Linked DNA regions of Homo sapiens. Changing the gene in region 2 together with the main gene of any one other region gives a genetic interaction. Each region holds a gene or a part of one and is shown on either strand. Other genes may lie near its edges.

Region 1 (3,325 bases), on a different chromosome or scaffold from region 2:
GCCAGGCTGGTCTCAAACTCCTGGGCTCGGGCAATTCTCCTGCCTCGACCTTCCAAAGTGCTAGGATTACAGGCATGAGCTGCTGCGCTTGGCCCCTTTCTGATATTTTTTTTTTTTGAGATGGGTTCTCACTCTGTCACCTAGGCTGGAGTGAGTGCAGTGGCGAGATCTCAGCTCACTGCAACCTCCGACTCCTGGGTTCAAGCGATTCTCTTGCCTCAGCTTCCTGAGTAGCTGGGATTACAGGCACTCACCACCATGCCCAGTTCATTTTTGTGTTTTTAGTAGAGACAGGGTTTCACCATATTGGCCAGGCTGGTCCTGAACTCTTAACCCGCCTGCCTCAGCCTCCCAAGGTGCGGGGGTTACAGGCGTGAGCCACCATGCCCCTGGCCCCTTTCTGATGCTTGATCTGAGATCAGATTGCTTCTGTGGGAAACCAAAGAGCATTTAAATCTTACCCATTCAAAAATAACCCACTATTTTTAGGAGGACTCCCTAGAAGGGGTGCTTTTAGGCTCCCTGAGCAAGAAAAGGGCTTTTATCAACTCTCTAGAGGTAGTGAGTCAAGTGAGCTGGGCAAGTAAGTTGACCTCTGTATCTGCTTCCTCATCTGTAAAACGGGGCTGAGAATAGATATCTGGGAAATAATGTGCTCTTGAACTCTGGTTTTATCATATGCTGCCTCAACACTATTCAATCTTAATTATTCCCAAACTTTAACGTAGTGTTAAGCTGTTAGGTGGCAGGAGGGCACTGCTTTGAACAGAAGCAGGAAGTACCCTCAGCTGGGCTCTGGGGCTTTCAATTAGTTATTCCTCGACCAGGTGGTGTAGTGGTCTAGCTCATCAGCATTTTCTGTCAGTGGCTGCACGAATCTGGAAGCGTTTGCTAACGCCAGGGTAGCGCGCGCGCGCACACACACACACACACACACACACACACACACACACACACAGTCGAGATCACAAGCTCACTCAGGGGCTTAAGCAGAATCACCTCCAGCGAGGAGAGTGCAAACCGAGGCACAGGCCAATCCAAGTTATTGCTTTCACAGGTTTATAACTGCTGCTCTCACCTTTAAATAGGCCATCGTGAGGAGTGGCAATAAAGTAAATGGCACCAAATAGAGAAGGGCGGGCTGGGCGGCCCGGTGAATGCGAGACGCCACAGTAGCAGTGAGCAGGCCTGTGAGGAGAGAGAGGCATCTGTGAGACACGAGAGGGAACCCGTGTCACCTGGCTGCTGCTGGGCAAAGTCCTGCAACTGTACAGATCTAATGTGCTGTCGTCCATTCTATGGTTGGGGTGTGAAATGCCCAGCTTGGGCAGTTGAAGAAATGTGGATCAGCACAGCTTTAAAAAACACCTACAACTCCAAGGACACATGACTGACCCAAGTCTCACTCCTTGCTCAGGTTCCTGGGTTCAAACCCTCCTTCCAGCTCCAAGTGTGCCTCTGTCTCCTGTGATGCTGGACTTGGGAGGCAGAAGACCTGGGTTCAAGTTCCAACTCTGCTACTCACAATAGCTAACATAAATGTAGTTCAGACCTTCCACCTCTCTGAGCCTCAGCTTGCTCATCTGTCTAATGGGGATAATGCCACTTGCCTTGCCCCTCTGAGTTTGTGGACTGAAATGAACCCATGTGAATGAACTGCTGTGGGACGAGGACAGTGCTGGGGTTGAGGAGGACGTACGGAGTGCAAAAGCTCCTTTCCAGTCACTGTGCGGGAGCAGTTGCATGTGCGGGCAGGTTACTGCTTTTCCCAGCCCCATCACAATCATCTCCTGTCTGCCTACACATGAGCTGGCTACAAAACTTGGCCTAGGTCAGAGTGGCAGAAATGTAGAACTAATGAATGTAAGTAAGTATCTATTGAATAAAGTAGGAAATAAATACGACAGTCATTCAACTCTAGAGGAAGATTTAAGCACAGACTAATCCACTGCACTGTGTGCTGTGTGTCCTTGGCTTTGAGGACTGACCTGCTTTTCCTACAACGTTCTTCAGATACACAGCTGGAGAGGGAACTGGCCTATCCAGTACACAAAACACTTAGCATCTCACGGGCCAGGCTGTCTATTACAGCACCCAGAATTCCTGCTCTCCTTCCATCCAGTAACTGTAGCTAGAAGACCTGATTTAATTCCAAAGGTTGGAGGACAGCCAGAGCGAGGATCATCTGCAGTCTCTCTGGTTCTCTTACCTACAAAGTATCCGATGAGGGTGCAGTGAAAGTAGGAGACCTTCTGCATGCGCCCGGAGATGTTGGCAGGTCCAGGGGCCCCACAGGAGTCCCCACTGGCTTGCTTTTTGTAGTTGTCATAGCGAAGGACAAAGCATAGTAGGAGACCAGGCATAACGATGTCTCCGATGCCCAACATGGAGAAGTGGCTGCCAGTGGAGCTGGAATGCAGTTTCACAGGTTAGTGACGTCACACTCTACAATCCAGTTTCTATTCCTTTTGTGCAAAGTTTGTTAGCTTTTTAAGGAGTCAAAGAGCTTATCTGCATGGCAGATGGAAATCTCTTCTGATGGAACATTAGTTTTAAGAGTGTAGAGAGAAAAAGCTGCAACAGTACTGGCACTAGAGGTCTCCACCTTGGCCCCCCTGTTTCAGGAGAGCCCCTTGGAAGTGACTGCTGAAGTGATTTGCATAAGTGCTGCTTCCTCTAGAAATGTCAAACAATTCATCATTTGTGACACATTCACTGTTGAGACTTCAAATAAGCACCTGGCTACTATTACAGGTGGAAGATTAAAGCAGCACATTCATTCTGCCAAGATTATATTACCAGGAGTTGTATAATTCTACCATTAGAACTTATTTTTATAAATATCTTACAAGTTAAAAGGATCGAGATTCTCCTAACTCCCTCCAGCCAACTCTAAACAGTGGAAACAGCAGTAAGGCATGGCTGTTTGCTGACATTAATCAATAATAAAAGGCACCGCCTGGATCACTCAGTGATCCTTCTTGGCAAGCCAAGAATCTCATCCTCATTTCCTCTTCTGCAGCATGGAGATAATGGCCCCAGGTTGGGATCAGAATGCTGATGACATTAGAGACTGATCAAGGCCGGGAACAGATAGGCACAGGAAGACAGTGTGGTCCTGTCATAGCATGAGGTCTTACCTTGGGAAGACCAGTTTTCCAGGCAGAGACAGGCGAGGAACATCACGCCCAACATTGGGCCCCAGGTGGAGCTTCCGGGATAGAACGTCAAGGGGATTGTCAGCCGGCTGAGTGGCCACCTTCACCATGACGTTGCTATTGAAGATGTAGGCTGAGAAAAATACCTGCCGAGTTGGAGAGATGCC
Region 2 (3,651 bases):
GGACAGGGATACATGGTTCAAATCCTAAAGTCCTTTGTTTCCAGTGTTTGCTGTGGAAGATTCCACTGAAAGCTTTGCTGAAGTCTACTGCACTAGCCTGAGTATAAAGCAACTACAAATACCTTTTTAGCTATTATAGCTTCTACCAACAGGTGACTTTATTTTTATCTCCCTGAATCACCTATCCATGGCCCTCTCTTGTCAAAATGAATAATCCTTACCCTTCCCAAGCAGTTCCTGCAGCCACACTCCCAGATCAACACAGTAAAGGGACCCCCTTCAGTTCGAGTTGGGAGAGGCAGGGACAGTCTTGCTAGCCGGGCTGAAAGCCCTCCACCAAGCAGACCCCTGCTCTTCCACCCTGCAGGCAAAGGAAACAACCTTTCAGAGCTTCCCTTTGCTGTGGGATCACTTCCAGGAGAGAGCAGCAGCTTAAGTGGAACAGATGGGTGCAACGGGTGCCCCCAGCTGCCCACAGCAGCTCACAGACTGAGACTGAAACGCCAACTGTTGCAAGCAGGGCTCTGCCACCACAGGGCCCGGGCTACCGAACCACTTCGAAACTGGTCTCCCACTTCTGCTCTGTACCTTCCCCCAAAATCTATTCTTCCCAAGGCAATCAAGAATGATCATTCCAAAATGCAAAAATGATCACATCCTCACCATATTGTCGTTTTGGTTTTTTTTTTTTTTTTGAGATGGAGTTTTGCTCTTGTTGCCCAGGCTGGAGTGCAATGGCATGATCTCGGCTCACCGCAATCTCCGCCTCCTGGGTTCAAGCAATTCTGCTGCCTCAGCCTCCCAAGTAACTGGGATTACAGGTGCCTGCCACCACACCTGGCTAATTTTTTTTTTTTTTTTGTATTTTTAGTAGAGACAGGGTTTCACCATGTTGGCCAGGCTGGTCTCGAACTCCTGACCTCAAGCGATCTGCCTGCCTCAGCCTCCCAAAGTGCTGGAATTACAGGCGTGAGCCACTGTGTCCAGCCTCTTCACTGTATTTTCTTGCTTAAATACTTCATTTGCTTCCCCTGGTAGTTAAGATAAAGGCAAAAATCTTCAACCTGCCTACAAGGCCCTGCATAGTGTAGGCCCTGTTGACAAGTCAGCCTCACCTCCTGTTACTCTAATGCCAGCTCTCTGCTACGGCAACGCTGGAGCCCTGGAGCTGCTGGAGGCCCTTGTGCATGCTGCTTCCTCTGTCTTTTCACTTCCTTTTCACCCAGTCAATACTCACCGTGCCTCCAAATCTCAATAGGCACAGCCTAACCCTGAGAAGGCTCAGATTTATCACAGGCACTCACAGCATTGCGTACCTTCATCTCCTTCTTAGCACTTAATACTCAAGCTCTTCTGTTCATTTAAGAAATCACTGGATTAGCATTTCTCTCACTAGACTATGAGCTCCACGAGCCCAGGGGTCATTTCAGTGTCACTAACTATAGTCCCAATGCCGGGTGCTCCACAAATATTGGTCAATAAAAGAATGAAATTGGTAGAAGGGGGTGGGGCGAATAACAAGTTCTCACCTGTCTTCCCGCATGGTTGGGTCTTGTCTAGGCTCTGAAGCATAAGGGTTTTAAAAATCTTCACCTCTTATGGATTGGTTATACCAGGGGTTACACTCTGGGGCTTCTAGATGGCATCTGGCCCACAGGTATGTTTTGGTTTATACTAGACACTTGTCTTGCTCTAAGAAAAGGGAGATTTGACAGCGTGGCATGCGTTCCTGCATGGCAGCTGTAGAATGGAGCTGAGCAGTAGCTCCGGCCCCACAGATGGCACCACTTTCTCAGTCAGCCATGGTCCCATCATGCTGGCCTGGCTCCACTTGTCATTAGCCTGGCTTCCCTTCCCTAGTCACCTGGGCCTGCCACTCTCGAACCCTCCCTCCCAGTAGGATGTAGCAGTGTTTCTTCCCCATGTTTTCCTTATCTGTGACTTCATTTCTTTCCTCCTCTTTATGGTCCTGTGGCCAGGATTGGGTCTCAGGTATGGACGTGGCCACCCATCACCACGGAGCAGCACGCACACTGGCTTCTCAACCACAGAAACTTTCTCCAGAGAGCTCAGGATATTTTAATGAGCATGACCTCTTTACAGTACTACAACAGCCTTGTGATCACATCCATTTTACAAACAAGAAAAGTGAGGCAGAAGAAAGCAGGGTCTGACCTGGTTCTCAGAAGCCAGGCCTTTGCTTCCAGAGTCTGGGTTCCAACCTTCATACCTTCAACAGGTACTCACTGGACACCTGCTCTGTGCCAAGCCCTCCTCTAGGGACTGGGAACACAGCAGTGAACACAACAGACAAAACTTCCTGCCTTGTGAAGTTTACACCTGGAGCTGGGGGTGACAATAGACACTAAGTAAAATAAAGACATTAAGTGATAGGTTTGAAGGTGGTAAATGCCACCAAAAACAGGAAAGCAGGGAGGGAGAGGAGGGGGTTGAGGTGTTGAGGTGGTCTGCAGCGGTGCGAGGGAGAGGAATGGGTTGGGGTATTGAGATGGTCTGCAGTGACGAGAGGGAGGGGAGCAGGTTGGGGTGTTGAGATGGTCTGCAGTGGCGGGGAGGGAGAAGAGTGGGTTGGGGTGTTGAGATGGTATGCAGTGGTGGGGAGGGAGAGGAATGGGTTGGGGTGTTGAGATGGTCTGCAGTAGTGTCGGGGGAGGTGAGGGGGTTGGGTGGGGTGTTGAGATGGTTTGCAGTGGTGGGAGGGAGAAGAGCAGGTTGGGGTGTTGAAATCATGTGCAGTGGCCAGGGACAGTAGAGAATGTGGCCATGAGTAAAGACGAAGGAGGTGAGGAGCAAGCCAGGAAGACTTGTGGCTCCTCGGCAGCAGCAACACCTGTAAAGGCGCTGAGGGCAGGAGGTGCCTGGTGCACTGGAAGAACAGCAAGCCCTGCTGCCTTCATTCCCAAGTTCAGTTGCCACCTGTTATCTGACTCCAGGGGCAGCCCTGTGGGGTCTGGGCTTTTCTTGAGTTCATCATACAGAGTTTGAGGACAGTGCAAAATACTCTCTGTTCTGCAGTCATTCCAACACACACTGTTGGACTGCCTGGCTCCAAACCTAAAGACACAATCTGTGAGGGGCCCCAGTAAGTCCCTACTGACCCCACTCCAGGGTTGTAAGAGGCAGAACCAACTTGAGGGACAGAACTGTGGGGAAATTCTTGGGGCTTTCTGAGATTCTTTTTCCATCAGGGGCTCTTTGGCTGACACATAGTGTCACCTTAAATGAGCAATGTTATACAAACCGATGAGAGCAGGGTGGTAAAACAGTAGAAGAAATGAGGTTCCCAGGGCAGAGTCTCAGGAGTGTGAGTAGAAGTGCAGGAAGCAGCTCCACCTCTCAGCCTTGGGGGAGAGAGGGTTGGCAGGCTGGTGGTATCCACATGAAGCCCAGGCTTTCCTTGAGCCCCTGCCAACTCTTGCTCTCTGCCCATCATCCATCACCAGCAACTTGGACACCTCCAAGCACATACACTTTTTAAAATATCCACTGGTTCACCAGGTCCTTGGGATCCAGTTCAAGTCCTTGGTGAGGCACACAGTGTCTTCCATGAGTCTCACCCTCTTCCCTAATCTCATCTCCTGTTCTTCCTCCTGCTATGCCAGTTAGGAAAAATCGTGGCAGACTTTGTAA

What was found.
Region 1: changes in RBM20 (region 2) and SPPL3 together harm fitness less than expected from each alone (positive genetic interaction), as found in Homo sapiens cells (one large-scale study listed by BioGRID).

Annotation. Positions count from the first base shown.
Region 1 is NC_000012.12:120,765,185-120,768,509, forward strand, and holds part of SPPL3 (signal peptide peptidase-like 3), read right to left. Parts: intron 3,305-3,325; coding exon 3,141-3,304; intron 2,410-3,140; coding exon 2,210-2,409; intron 1,189-2,209; coding exon 1,079-1,188; intron 1-1,078.
Region 2 is NC_000010.11:110,815,336-110,818,986, reverse strand, and holds part of RBM20 (RNA-binding protein 20), read right to left. Parts: intron 1-3,651. UniProt on the Homo sapiens protein: RNA-binding protein that acts as a regulator of mRNA splicing of a subset of genes encoding key structural proteins involved in cardiac development, such as TTN (Titin), CACNA1C, CAMK2D or PDLIM5/ENH.